Linked DNA regions of Homo sapiens. The protein of the gene in region 1 interacts with the protein of each later gene in a biochemical or structural test. Each region holds a gene or a part of one and is shown on either strand. Other genes may lie near its edges.

What was found.
Region 2: the proteins of CSRP3 (region 1) and LDHD form a complex in vitro, tested with the Homo sapiens proteins (one study listed by BioGRID).

The regions. Positions count from the first base shown.
Region 1 is NC_000011.10:19,184,975-19,191,994, forward strand, and holds part of CSRP3 (cysteine and glycine-rich protein 3), read right to left. Parts: intron 3,331-7,020; coding exon 3,162-3,330; intron 1,375-3,161; coding exon 1,242-1,374; intron 72-1,241; coding exon 1-71. UniProt on the Homo sapiens protein: Positive regulator of myogenesis. Acts as a cofactor for myogenic bHLH transcription factors such as MYOD1, and probably MYOG and MYF6.
Region 2 is NC_000016.10:75,113,768-75,121,754, reverse strand, and holds the start of LDHD (probable D-lactate dehydrogenase, mitochondrial isoform 2 precursor), read left to right. Parts: upstream 1-4,974; 5' UTR 4,975-5,034; coding exon 5,035-5,106; intron 5,107-6,094; coding exon 6,095-6,207; intron 6,208-6,415; coding exon 6,416-6,557; intron 6,558-6,786; coding exon 6,787-6,928; intron 6,929-7,069; coding exon 7,070-7,229; intron 7,230-7,520; coding exon of another isoform or gene 7,521-7,589; coding exon 7,590-7,789; intron 7,790-7,884; coding exon 7,885-7,987. UniProt on the Homo sapiens protein: Involved in D-lactate, but not L-lactate catabolic process.

The sequences.
Region 1 (7,020 bases):
TTGTCAGTGACATTTGTGGACTCCAGACTCTTCCCACAGATGGCACAGCGGAAACAGGTCTTGTGCCAAGGCTGAGGGGCACAGAAAAGTTGCATATTTAATGAGGTAGGCAACACATTCTGTTTCCATTTCAAGTCCCTGACCAGCAGCATCCAGAGGAGTGACACGTCTTAACCATTTGCTTACCTAATGGGCCCCATAATTTCTCCAGGGGTTTGGAGAAAATGAGATGCTATGGCCTTAGCCAGCACTTCTCAGAAGCCTGAAAATGGATTTGTCATGGTGATTTGCATATGTTTTCCTTCAGAATAGACTAAACGGGAAAGGGCTTCCCCAGGCCAAAAAGATCCAAGGAACAAACTGGTCAGAGAAGGACTTGGGCTGGGGGCACTGGGTGATGTTTATGTTGAGTATAAAGTTACAGAAGGAAAAAAAATAAAGAAATCAGGCAATTGTTCAGGGAATTCAACCTTGTTTTAACTCTCTGGTTTAATTCCTCTGTGTAATTCTGAGGCAGAGTTGCATAATTTCGATGTTCTAGATCTCCATCCTCCTGCACATCTGCGTGTCTACCAGGTACAGCCCAGGGCTTCTCCTATGTCTTCAAATGGCCAGTTTTAGGGTGGAGCCTGCCCTTGTGTTTGAAGTTAGATGCTCCCCACGGCCCTTCCTCCCACCATGTGGTATAAACATAATTTTTCTCTTTCCTCAGGTCTGACTCCTTTGGTGAGTACCCAGGCTTTGGGCCTGAAACTGGAACTTGCAGAGCACATATGCATGAGTGTCTCGGACATCTGATGACTTTCCTGAGAGCCAGGAAGTTCGTAAGTGAGGATGCTTCTCACTACTGTGAGGCGTCTGCTATATCCATTGGTCATGGTGGCAGCAACAGGTTGAGTTAGGCAGTGGTTGGTCTGGGGCTGACATCTTTTGGGGGGATTGTGGACACTGGAGGGTAGACGGGCTTTTGCTTTGTATCCCAGAACTTTCAGCTGGGTGCCTTCCATCTAGTAGAATAATGCTTGCTGCTTCAAACTGCACCAGTTCCAGCTTTCAAAGGGCAATGCTAGATGACAGACAGCCCCAGCCTGGGAAAGTGGCTGAGGATGTGTGGTTTCTAAAGTTGTTCTGGGAGCTAGAGAGAATGACAGCTGCTTGCAGCTCCCAATTTTTCTCTCATTCCTCCCAAATGGCCTGGTGGAGATGAGCAAATTCTGTCTGGCTCATACAGAAGGTCTTACCTTGCCACCTCCCATAACCTTCTCAGCAGCATAGACTGACTTGCCACATCGAGGGCACTTCTCGGACTCTCCAAACTTCGCAGTGAATTTGGAAGGGTTGCTGGTGGTAACTGAGCGTGCCGGCTTTGGGGACCTGTTGGAAATAGACGAATGAATGAAACGTAGATTTCCCTTGGCAAAGAGTAGAAGAGCTGTGTGGCCTTGAGAAAGTGACCTCACTTCCGTGTGTCTCAGACTCCTCATCTGGAAAATGGGGATAATGATGGTGTCTTTCTCATAGCGTTGTTGAGAGGGTTAAATGAGGCGACATTTGTAAAGCACTTAGAACAGTGCCCGCCTGGCATGTAGTAAGGGCTAATAAATGTTTGCTAAAATGGGTTTAGAGCTTTCCTTTTTGTTGTGAAGCACTTAGCAAATGTTCTAGTTATGTTAGCTTGTGTTATTGTTGTTGTTGTGTTGTTATTACTACTGTGCTTATTTGTGTTTTTCTGGACCATTTGCAAGGCCACTTCTTTCCTTTCTAAAGAGAGTTGTGAAAATTACAGAGCAAGGTGGGATTTTGACAATGGGTGCTAATCAGTTCCTGATGAACCACAGTCCATGAGCTGATGCATTCCTTATCACAAGCCAGGCTGTCGTCCTGCCTCCAAGGGTCACCTGTCCCAGGAGAACAATGTCCAAAATAGAGACATAATAATAGCCTCTCATGTGTTGGTATCTTTTGGTGTTTGCTTGTATATTATATCACTTGAGCTGTACCACAACCCTATAAGGTAGGCAGGGCTGGTTGGAGGAGAGTGAGGATCAGAGTGTGACTGCCCAAGGCCAGGCAGCTCATGAATGATGGACCTAGGAGGAAATCCTAGGTCTTCAGACCTTGTTACTCTTTGTGCAGCATCACTAGGAAGCCCTAATGTTGAAAAGTGAACTTCAGTCAATGTGAGGCAGAGAATGCAGTGGTATGTTTTCTTCCTTAACAAGAGTCTCCATTTGAGATTGAGTAATAAGACAAACTAACAAAAAGAAGTCTTCTCTCTAAGATGACTAATCACACATCTCTCCACGTTTCCATGCTCTCCTGTGGCTTACTCTCTTTTGAAGGGATCAGCTGATTCCTCAGATGGCTGAAGTGCTCTCTGGGGGAGGCCCTCCATGGGACACTTCCTTGGTTGGGCTGGGCCTTTCTGGCCAGTCGCAGTGCAGAGCTCAGCCTGGAGGCCAGCTGGCCAGAGAGTAGTGTCAGGCCAGTGGCCATCAGACTTTCCTCAATTCTGGGCTGGAGGTCAATGTGGTTATCAAGAAAGTGGACCCAGGGGACCAGACTGGTGGATGGAGGTGGCCAGAGTGATGTCCCAGCTTCCCTAGGATAATGTGGCGGGAACTCTAGCACTGTATTGGCAACAGGCAGCCAGGGAACCCCCAGAAAAATCATGATTGATTGTTTACTCTGAGGCACAGCCCATCCTTGCAGACACACTCCCCCTGCCATGTGGACGTTTGTCATCTTACAATCCAAGGGAAGAAATCTTTTCATGACAGGCACACAAAGAATGGCCATTGCTGCCCTGCCATATTTGTGTGATTTACACAGAAACTCTCAACGGGGAAGAAAGGAGACTCCATGCAGTTTTGCAAAGGTCAAACAATGGAACATCTGTACATCCTGGGTTTTCTCTTGACATGCAAACCAAGAGCCATGGTGTAAAAGTAATTGCCCTTTAGAATGGCAAATAATTTAAAGAGAGTCTTTGGAGAGATGACACATTGTTCAAACTTGGTCAGACTGAGTATTCCTATTGTTGGCAAGTCAACAATAGAGTCCATTCTCCCACTTCCAGAAAACGTTGCTATGGGAACGAAATGAACTGTCCTGATAATTGGAGACTTTAACAGGCAAGGGGGAGCAGGGCAGTAACTCACTGTTGGAACTGCAGGCCGAGATGCTCGCCCGTGTCTGTGCTGAGACAGCCAGCGCCTTGTCCATACCCGATCCCTTTGGGGCCATATCTGCGCCCATAGCACACCTTGCAGTAGATCTCCGACTCATGAGCCGCGACTGTCGTGCTGTCAAGAGCCTTCCTGCAGGCCACTGCCAGGAAAAGGAAGGGTCATGGGATTGGAATTGAAATCCTTCTCCCCTTCTTTGCACTCCCAATGCCATGCTCGGGGCCAGAGACCCAGCATGAGGGGCCCCTGAGCCAAGAATACAATGTTGATTCCTGACCAGAGTATCTGCCCTGAGTTGTGCACTCCAAGACAGTCCCGATCTCACAGATGACAAAATTGGGTTCAGTGGTTCCCAGCTGGAAAAGGGTGGAAGCTAGCATTAGAACGAGATATATAGTCTCAGACCTGCTAAGGACTGCATCCCTGAGTCTTCCCAAATGACATCAGGGAAGTGTGTGTGTGTGTGTGTGTGTGTGTGTGTGTGTGTGTTTGTGGGCGCGCGCGTTGGCAGGGGGTGGGTTAAGGCAGGAGAGAAACTTACTTTTTTCTTAATCATAAAAGAATCAGGATTGAGCACTTTCTGTACTTACCACAGCCTTTGAAGGACACTGTGATATTCAAGCAGACAATTGCCATTGAGGCTAATTTTGGTCAAATTCTGGAAGCAGAGGAGGTGGGGAAGGGGGTAGACCTGCCTTATTAACTCCTTAGGCTTCTATTGGCTCAAGCCCCCTGGTTACTGTATATTACCTAATGTAAAGTATCCTCCAGTATAAGGCAATCAAGCCCTCATTTTTCCAAAGAGAGGATTTATAGAAAGATTTATTTTGCAAATTTAAAAGGAAACTTTTAAAGATATAAATAAAAATGTCAAATATCTACTTATAATTTTAATTTAGTAATATAAATCAACAATATATTGATTTGGAAAGGTTACTTTTTTCTAATCCCACATAAATTTGGGGAATAATTATCTCCAATTCTGTCTTTGCATCTTCAACATCGGCATCTCCCTCACCACCAGAATCATTTCTGGGGGCAGCTGGCCCAGCTTTTCTGAGCAGCTCACTTTCACTTCTATCTGTACGTTTAAAGAGGCAGCCCTGTTTTATACCTGAGTAGGAGGTTGTCACCTAGAAATTGCATCTCAACAAGAAGGACCTATTAGCATAGCATTAGGGCAGATTTTTTAAAAGATATAGAATTTCCACCATGTAATGACTTGCTACATTGCTTTGCAACAATGATTCTTAAAGGTTGTTTATAGTGATGCTCAGTGCTTATAATAGGGAGATAATATCCCCAGGAATAATAATATGTGTGCATTAAATGTATTTGCCTTTTAAAAAAACATTTCCATCAAATGATCCCTATAAGCAATCCAGCATTGAATGAGGTTATTTCAGGCTAATATGCCTTCTTCAAATGATATTATCTTTTTTAAAAGATAAAGTAATTGAATATGGGAGTGGAGGAAGAAGATAAGGTTGTAGATGAGGTAGGATTAGCCAGGGGCTGATGAGTGTGGGGCAAGGGAGTTTATTCTGGGACTTTATTTGACTATTCTGTCAACATTGTATGTGTTAAAAAATATCTGTACCAAAAAAAAGTTTAAATCAGTAAATAAAATAATTGGAAGAATGTCTTACAGCAGGAGAGACTTTATAAGGCTTTAAACACAAGGCATATCTTTTTTATGAAGATGAATTTGGGGGGAGAATGCCTTATATTGAGACATAGAAGGTGTGTACACTTGTCTCTACCCTTCTTGTTACTGTCAGTTACCAACCTCCACAACAACTGCTTGCATATTTGCTGATGGTCTAGACTCTGAGTTCCTTGAGGGCAAGCCTGTTTTGTCTTAATATTCCGAGAATTTAGCACAAGGCCTGGGCCAGAATTAGTCCTCTGTAAACATTTATTGAGTACATGAATGAATGAATGAATGAATGTGTCAATGTAAATCAGTGAGTTGTTCACAATTATACAATAGTAAGTTGCAGAGCCACGGCTTACCTCAGCTCTTTTGACTCCTAGTCCAGTGCTCATTCCCATCACTCCAAGACTGCCTATACCCTAAGGTGCCCTGGCCAATTCTGTAGCCACTCCCTGGCTTCTGATGAGCTTTTGTGAACAGACAAAGGAGAACTGTGCTGTCCAGTGCTGTGGCCACAGCCACATGCTGTGCTGTAAGCACAAAATGCACATCAGATTTCAAACACTCAGTACAAACGCAAAAATCATGTAAAATATCCCACTGATCATTTGTATATTGAAGTATACATTGAAATTATAATGTTTTGGATATATTGAGTTAAATAAAATGTTTTAAGATTAATTTCATCTGTTTATTTGTACCATTTTTAAACTATGGTTACTAGAACATTTAAATTTACATATGTTGCTGCATTATATTTATTTCTTTTGGACAGCAAACTTACTTTCTAGATTTCATGATTAGTCTAGAGATTTAATTGTGAAGATTTATCTAGAAGTCAGGGGAACACTGGCCTGGGCACAATGTAAGGTAGACCCTGCGTCTCTGAACGCCTTTTCCAGCAGCTACAGAGTTGCCTGCGGACAGACAGGTGATTATCTTGTGGTAATAATATAGAAAAGTGTGCTCCTCTCTGGGGCTCTTCTACCCATCGTTCCTGAAATGTATGCTGCTCAAATCCTCATCCCATCAAAGGGTTCTCAGGAAATATCAAAGGGTTAAAAGGGATGTACCAAAAAATGCTCAAATCTCTTCTACTATAACTCCTTTGAACAGGGCATCTTCCTCCTACCTGGGAAAGACAAGACACCCTCTACTAAGGAAAGCTTCCCTACAATTTCCTGTTCCCACGCAGTTACCAAAGTTGATCAAAGGAGAATACAGGCCTAGAAGGCTGGATTTCCATATCAAGACCCCCCAGTTTTCTCCTTGTAACAACCTGTGCAGTAGGTATAATCATCTTTGTTTTATAAGTGGAGAAATTGAGGTTCACCATGGTGAAATGACCTGCCCAAAATCTCAGTGAGTACATGGCAGAGCCCAGACTCAAACCCGAATCCCTTTTACTCTAATTCTAGAATTCTTTCTAATATTCCTAATCCTGTTTTTTAAAGAATGCTAGCTCTCTTTGGACAAAAGCCCCAACAGATGGAGTCCAGCCCTTGGAGTTCTTTTCAATTGCATGGATGCCTTGCAGCTACCGGGCTGAAGCATGGGGGTGCTGGCATGGCTGTGGGGACTAGTCGGGGAGGGGGCTCGCCAAATATCCAGCAGAGCTAGCCCTTAAGCCAGACCTCCTGGACAGAAGCAGAGAAGATAAGTGGCCATTTTAAAACCAAGGCCAATTTTCTCCCAAACAGGACTAGCTGCCAGGAAACAGTATAGAATGCAGTCATGTCAAAGAGCACTGGACATGGAGTCTAAAGGTAGAGGTTCATGTATAAGACTCTATCGCAGATGCACATGACCCGGGCTTAGATGTGAGAAATGACTTATCGAAAGTCACGTGAGTCAGGCAGGACCAGACTCACAAGGTCTCAAGGTTCTCAAGGTTCTCAAGGTTCAAGCCACAAGGTCTCAAGGTTCTCCCTATTTTTGACATGTGTGAGTCAGTGTCTGGCGGGTAATGGTCAGGATTTCTTTCATGCAGTTACTGGTGCCCAGGCCCTGAAATGCTTCCCTCTCTGACTCTTACATACAGAGTTGGCATGTGTTGCCCCCCTGCCTGACATAGGTTCTCTCTCAGACAAGACCAGTCACAGCTGGCTTCAGTCACAGCTGACCAGAAGGGGCAACATAGACAGCCAAATCCATCCTGGCTTCAGATAAGTGCTG
Region 2 (7,987 bases), on another chromosome or scaffold:
CGAGCACTTTTATTTTCTTAAGCCAGTTAATTAGAGCTCTTTTAAGCATTTTCAGTAGTGAAGCATTGTGTACACAACACATAAATACATAGACGTATTAGGCATGCTGATAGAAGTACATCTTATGGATACACTCAGATTATTGATAACCTGCTTCACAACCCTAGGCAGTTGTCAGCTAACTAGCCTTATGTTTGCATATTAAAGGAAACAACTCAGGTGAAAATCAAATAGCAAAATTTACATCATAAGGTACAGAGAGAAAAAGTCTGATGGTGCCAGAGGGAGATGAAAGATGAATGCCAAATCAAACATAAAATTAAAGAAATTTGCCGGGTGTGGTGGTTCATTCCTGTAATCCCAACACTTTGGGGGGCCGAGGTGGGCGGATCACAAGGTCAGGAGATCGAAACCATCCTGGCTAACACGGCGAAACCCCGTCTCTATTAAAAATACAAAAAATTAGCTGGGCGTGGTGGTGGGCGCCTGTAGTCCCAGTTATGTCTGTACTCTCTGGAGTACAGAGATCACCCCACTGTACTCCAACCTGGGTGACAGCGAGACTCTGTCTCAAAAAAAAAAAAACAAAAAAGAAATTTATCATAGGATTGTATAAGGAGACTAGTTTTATTTAGATAAAGGGACTACCTTTTAAGTGGATCTCTGAGCTCTGGGCAGAGCCCACACTGAATCCTGGGTCTCCAAGAAGGGACACTTATTATGAGGTTAGAACACGTGATGCTTTTACAGTGCACTTTTTAAAAAACTTCTTTTAAACAAAGACATTTCTAAGTGTCTAAACCATAGTCTTCCTTAAAAACCCAAGGGTAGGCTGGGTGCAGTGGCTTATGCCTGTAATCCCAGCACTTTGGGAGGCTGAGGCGGGCGGATCATGAGGTCAGGAGATCGAGACCATCCTGGCTAACACGGTGAAACCCGTCTCTACTAAAAATACAAAACAAACAAACAAACAAACAAACAAACAAAAAACAAGCTGGGCATGGTGGCGCTTGTAGTCCCAGCTACTTGGGAGGCTGAGGCAGGAGAATGGCGTGAACCCGGGAGGCGGAGCTTGCAGTGAGCCGAGATTGCGCCACTGCACTCCAGCCTGGGCGACAGAGTGAAACTCAGACTCAAAACAAACAAACAAACAATACAAAAAACAAAAAACAAAAAAACCCAAGGGTAACCTCTGTTGCAATAACTATTTTAGTCAAAAAAAAAAACAAAAAAAAACCCAAAAAAAAACCACAAACAGGTAACAACAATACAAAAGTAAGCAGTTGAAGAGACGAGACGAACTTGCCTGTTTACACTCTGGGGATTGCATAAGAAAAAACAGGTTTCTCCCTTAAAGGGAGCCTGGTGCCTTCTCTGTTCTCTTTAAGGAACCCCAGCTATTATAAACTATTTTAGGTCCCTCATGCAGCAGAGGGTGCAAGAGAAAGGAGATACAGCCGAAGTAAATGAAGAAAACAGAATTCAGTCAACTGAGAAGAAAAAAACTTTCGCTCAAAAAAAGACAAGATTCTTGGAGAAAAACAAAAACAAAAACATGAAGTCCTTTTAAATACAAACACACACACGCACATGCGCACACACACACACACCACACATACACATGCACATCTTCGATGTTAGCTTTTAATTAAGCTGACTTTTAATCATTGAGCTCCTTTAAAAAAATCTTTTAAAATCTCATTACCATATTTCAGCTAGGACAAATTGCTGCTATTTCAGAAGCACAGCCATTGCTCTTTCAGTTTGGCCTGGCTAGCAAAAAGGTGGCCTCGTTGTGTAACTAAAGCCACTTAGTAGTCAAAATAAAAAATCTTTCCTTTTTTTTTTCCTTTTGCTGGCTGTTTTTCACCCCCTATCACATCATCCTTTGTGTATGTGTGTGTGTGTGAATTTAGCCACTTCAGAGGCCTTGTTCCCCATAATTTGGGACTTCCTTTGTATTTGATCAAGTCAGATAGAGTTGATCAAACCCAATGGGAAAAAGACTGAAAGAACAACAAAAAGAGAAATGAACAACAACAAAACAGTTAAGCAAAACAAATGATCACACAATTTATATGATTACTAAGCTTTCTAGTGGTAAGGAGAAATTAAGACCAGCTGGTTGTAATCTTAACTTTAGCCAAAACAAACCCCAATTCAGTTACTTACCTAGGGATGGGTTTCAGGCTGAAGACTGCTCTCTACCATCCTAGAAGCAGGGAAAAACCCTCATCTTCCCTGTTGGTTGCGAGCTCAAACACCATAAAGGAGTTACCTGCCTTCCATCAACATGGAAGCAGGAAAAATTTGCCTTCCTTGTGTTAGAAGCAAGTAAAACTCCAAAAAAAAAAGAGGAGTTGTACAACAAAATGAACTTTAGATCTTGACCAGATTTTGAAAGATAAGGTATTCTCTGGAGGGTGTGCTTCCGGGCCTCAGCAAATTGTCCTATTGGTTTGAGCCATAAAGATAGCTCAAGCTGGTACCAAGCACTGATAGCTTTGTCAAAGGTCAGGGGCGCCTCCAGTCAGAATTCTTCTGTGGTTACCAAAATATGAACCCCCCAAATCTGAGAAAGGTCTCAGTTAATTTAGAAAGTTTATTTTGCCAATGATGATGGTGTGACACAGCCTCAGGAGATCCCAATGACATGTCCCCAAGGTGGTCAGAGCACAATTTAGTTTTATACATTTTGGGGAGACTTGAGACGTCACTCAACATACGTAAGATGAACATTGTTTGGGTCTGGAAAGACAGGGAGGGGGCTTCCCGGTCATAGGTAGATAAGAGACAAATGTTTGCATTCTTTTGAGTTTCTAATTATCCTCTCAAAAGGAGGCAATCAGATATGCATTTAGCTCAGTGATCAGAGGGGTGACTTTGAAAGAATGGGAGGCAGGTTTGCCTTAAGCAGTTCCCAGCTTGACTTTTCCCTTTAGCTTAGTAATTTTGGGGGCTCAAGATATTTCCCTTTCAGACCTCTTCAGTAGAATTCTTTCTTCTGATGAGGCAAGCATTGAGTTTTATGTAGACCTGTATGGATTTCCCACCACTCACATGAAGACCATGACCTGTGACACATTCCCTGGAGGTCCTGAGAACATGTACCCAAGGCAGTTGAGTTACAACTGGTTTTATACAGTTTAGGGAGGCATCAGACAGTAATCAATATAAGCAGGGTATGCATTGGTTCCTTCTGATTGAGGGAGGAGCTTACAGGTCATAGGTGAATTCAAAGACTTTTCTGATTGGCGCTGGGCACGGTGGCTCACACTTGTAATCCCAGCATTTTGGGGAGCCAAGGCGGGTGGATCACTTGAGGTCAGGAGTTCGAGACCAGCCTGGACCAACATGGTGAAACCCTGTCTCTATTAAAAATACAAAAATTAGCTGGGCATGGTGGCACTCCTGTAATCCCAGCTACTTGGGAGGCTGAGGCATGAGAACAGCTTGAACCCAGGAGATGGAGGTTGTAGTGAGCTGAGATCACGCCACTGCCTGAGCAACAGAGTGAGACTCCATCTCAAAAAAAAAAAAAAATTTCTGATTTTCAATTGGTTGAAAGAAGTTATTATCCAAAGACTTGGAATCTTGGTATACAACAACAAAATTTTTTTTAAATAAAAAATTTTAAAAAAGACAACCTGGAATCAATAGAAATAAGCATCTGGGTTAAGATAAGGAGTTGTGGAGACCAAGGTTCTTTTTTTTTGAGACAGAGTCTCGCTCTGTCGCCAGGCTGGAGTGCCGTGGTGCGATCTCAGCTCACTGCAACCTCCACCTCCTGGGTTCAAGCGATTCTCCTGCCTCAGCCTCCCAAGTAGCTGAGACTACAGGCGTGTACCACCATGCCCAGCTAATTTTTGTATTTTTAGTAGAAACGGGGTTTCACCATGTTGGCCAAGAGGGTCTCTATCTCTTGACCTCGTGATCCTCCCACTTTGGCCTCCCAAAGTGCTGGCATTACAGATGTGAGCCGCTGCACCCGGCCCAAGGTTCTTATTATGTAACATAGATGGTAAATGTCTAAGGCGTTAAAAGGTGCCAGACTCTTAGTTAAATCTCCCTTAGATCAGGATAAAACCTGGAAAGAGGCTGGACGCGGTGGCTCATGCCTGTAATCCCAGCACTTTGGGAGGCCAAGGCAGGTGGATCACGAGGTCAGGAGTTCAAGACCAGCCTGGCCAAGATGGTGAAACCCTGTCTCTACTAAAAATAGAAAAATTATCTGGGCACAGTGGCAGGCACCTGTAATCCCAGCTACTTGGGAGGCTGAGGCAGGAGAATCGCTTGAACCCAGTGGGTGGAGGTTGCAGCACGCTACTGCACTCCAGCCTGGGCCACAGAGTGACTCTGTCTCAAAACAAAACAAAACAAAACAAAAAACCTGGAAAGGGGAGGGGATTCTCTACAGATTCTAGATTTTCCCCACAAAAGACAGCTTTTTGGAGCTATTTAAAAAAAAAATCAGAGGAATATATTTTGGGGGTAAAATACATTGATTTCTTTCAGGGCCTGCTATCTGTCAGGTGATGCTAGAGTCAGGTTGGAATTTGGTATCTTATTGCTACAAAGAGTCTGTTTTGTGTCTTAAGATCAGAATGCCTTAAGGTCTCTGTTTTAATGTTAATGCTGGTCAGTTGTGTCTGAATTCTAAAGGAAGGAGGGGGATAATGAGGCTTGTCCTAAACCTCTTCCCATCACAGCCTGAATTAATTTTTCAGGTTTATTTTGGAATGCCCTGGGCTGAGAGGGAGGTCCATTCAGTCGGTTGGGAGGCTTAGAATTTTATTTTTGCCTTACAGTTTCCCAAAACGTCCAGTGAACCTCGCCTCTCCTTTAGAAGTGTCGTCCCTGGAGCCCACGAAAATGTCTGCAAGATCTGCAAGGGCCACCTTAAAGCCCGTGCCACCTTAAGCAGGCCCCACCCCTGGCCTAGCCAATGGGCTGACAGCAGCAGTAGCTGCTGCCACAGTAGCTGACTGGTCACCCTGCCACCCAGTGCTCACACCCTCTGGCCAGTGCCTGGCTATGGCCCGACTGCTCAGGTCTGCAACCTGGGAGCTGTTCCCCTGGAGGGGCTACTGCTCCCAGAAGGCAAAGGTACCGGGAGAGAAGAGAAGTCCTCTGGAGGGATGAGGTGGGGAGCGGGGAGCAGGGGGTTCTGATCCCAAGTTTCCTGGGCTCTGTGACGCCCCAGCACCAAGTGACCTGACCTTGGGCAAAAGGGCACTGGGCTTACCCTGTGGCAACTGTGGGTGGGTGTAGAGTGAGATCAGCTGAGTCCCCACTGCTACCATGAGTGGGGCTGGGGGAGTCAAATGGATGCCCCTGGAATAAAACACACCTGTGGAAGAAGGCCCTGAAGGAAAGGGCCTGGGTTCCAGGCCAGGCTCTGTCCTTAACTTGGCCTCCATTTCTCATCTGTAAAATGGGAAGAAACACATCCCCCGCCCCGCCGCGCCCCGCCCCCCACGAAGGGCCCAGAAGCCCCAGGCAACGTAGAGTGGGGAGGGGGCAGTGGAAGCTTTTCCTCCCCCTAATTCCCTTATCAAGCTCTGAGTTCCCTGTGGCTGGGGTGGTGCTTGGTTGGCCCTGGAGAAAGGAGGAAGTGAGGGATCTTTTCGGTTGCTCAGGCTGGGCTGGCTATTGAAGGAACCCTGCTGATAGCCTTTTTGGAGAGTGAATTCTGGTTTTTTATTTGGATGGCTGGGCGCTGTGGCTCACGCCTGTAACCCCAGCACTTTGGGAGGCCGAGGCAGGTGGATCGCTTGAGCCCAGGAGTTTGAAACCATCCTGGGCAACATAGTAAGACCCTGTTTTTATTAAAAAAGAAAACATTAAAAAAATTCTGGTGGCGTTTTTTTCTGAGGGGAAACTTTGACCCCCAATGGCTCTGTTTGGAAAAGAGGCATTTCTGGATAGTGGGTTTGTTTAAAGTGGGCCCACCTGGCAAGGATGTTGTCAGCGGGGCGGGCGCAGGGGAGGCTCACTCCAGCCTCCAGCCCCCAGCCCTCCCCCCGACACTGGGGCAGGGCTGTGGCCCCATGTGTCTTTCGGGGGACCCTGGCAGTGTGTTTCTTCCCTGCAGGGAGAGCTCTGCAGGGACTTCGTAGAGGCTCTGAAGGCCGTGGTGGGCGGCTCCCACGTGTCCACTGCCGCGGTGGTCCGAGAGCAGCACGGGCGCGATGAGTCGGTGCACAGGTATGGGAGGGTTCGCGGGCCCCTCCCCTGTCTTCTGGATTCAACCCCAGCTGAGAGAGAGGGTGCTGGGTTGCCTTCCTCCTCACTCATCTGTTTTGGGGTGCTCTGGCATGTTCTCTGCCCCTCGCTTGCTGTAGCCTCAGGCCCTGCAACACCTCGGGACCAGAGGGTGTCACGCCCCGCTAAATCGCTGAGGGTCTGGTTCTAGGTGCGAACCTCCTGATGCTGTGGTGTGGCCCCAGAACGTGGAGCAGGTCAGCCGGCTGGCAGCCCTGTGCTATCGCCAAGGTGTGCCCATCATCCCATTCGGCACCGGCACCGGGCTTGAGGGTGGCGTCTGTGCTGTGCAGGTACAGTGGGGCTCCCTCGCCCGGCCCGAGGATGGTCCCAGCACACCTTGGCACACCTGTGGCTGCCTCCCCCGCCACACACGGCACCTTGGGTCTGCTCCCGCCCGTGGGCTGCCTGCCTCTGGGGGTCTGGTCTGGCTGCTGGGGGGACACCCGCGGGGTGTGGTCCGGGGACGTGGCCAGGTCAGAGACCCAGGTCTGCAGTGGTCTTAGCACCTGCCCCAACCAGGGCGGCGTCTGCGTTAACCTGACGCATATGGACCGAATCCTGGAGCTGAACCAGGAGGACTTCTCTGTGGTGGTGGAGCCAGGTGTCACCCGCAAAGCCCTCAACGCCCACCTGCGGGACAGCGGCCTCTGGTTTCCCGTGGGTAGGACTCGCGAACCTTTCCTGGGACCCTGAGGGCACCGTGGGAGCAGGGCTGTGTCTGGGGTTCAGGGGACCTTCCTCCCCCAGCCCGAGGGAAAGGACCTCCGGTCCCTGAGGCTGCCTTCTGTACGCCGCCCTCCAGACCCAGGCGCGGACGCCTCTCTCTGTGGCATGGCGGCCACCGGGGCGTCGGGGACCAACGCGGTCCGCTACGGCACCATGCGGGACAACGTGCTCAACCTGGAGGTGGTGCTGCCCGACGGGCGGCTGCTGCACACGGCGGGCCGAGGCCGGCATTTCCGGTGAGCGCCCTCTGCGGGGGGCCCGGGCTCTGGCCCTGGGCACTGCTGGCGGGCTGCCCTGCAGAGACCGGGCTGTGAAAAGCACCTCCTGGCGGCCCCCTGGTTTGGCAGGCTAGGCTTCCTCAGGCTCTGAAGCCCTGTCAGCTGGGCCAAAGTGGATGGGACCAGGGTTTGCTCTCCCTGCCTGAGGCCGACTGGCTTTGTGGAGCAGAAAGCACTGGGCCAGGGAAACTGGGCCCGAGGGAGGCCAGCCCAGACCTCAGTGCCTGGGGTCGGTGTCTTGGGTTCCAGCTTCGGCTTCTGGCCAGAAATCCCTCATCACACAGCCTGGTACTCACCTTGTGTGTCCCTGGGACGTAGGAAGAGTGCAGCCGGCTACAACCTCACGGGGCTCTTCGTGGGCTCCGAGGGGACGCTGGGCCTCATCACAGCCACCACCCTGCGCCTGCACCCTGCCCCTGAGGCCACAGTGGCCGCCACGTGTGCGTTCCCCAGTGTCCAGGCTGCTGTGGACAGCACTGTACACATCCTCCAGGCTGCAGTGCCCGTAGCCCGCATTGGTGAGCTGAGGATGGGGGCAGTCAGGGTGGGCTCCCTGGAAGAGGCCCCCTGGGAAGGCCAGGCCTCACCTGGCCTGCCATCTCCCTGGATCCAGAGTTCCTGGATGAAGTCATGATGGATGCCTGCAACAGGTACAGCAAGCTGAATTGCTTAGTGGCGCCCACACTCTTCCTGGAGTTCCATGGCTCCCAGCAGGC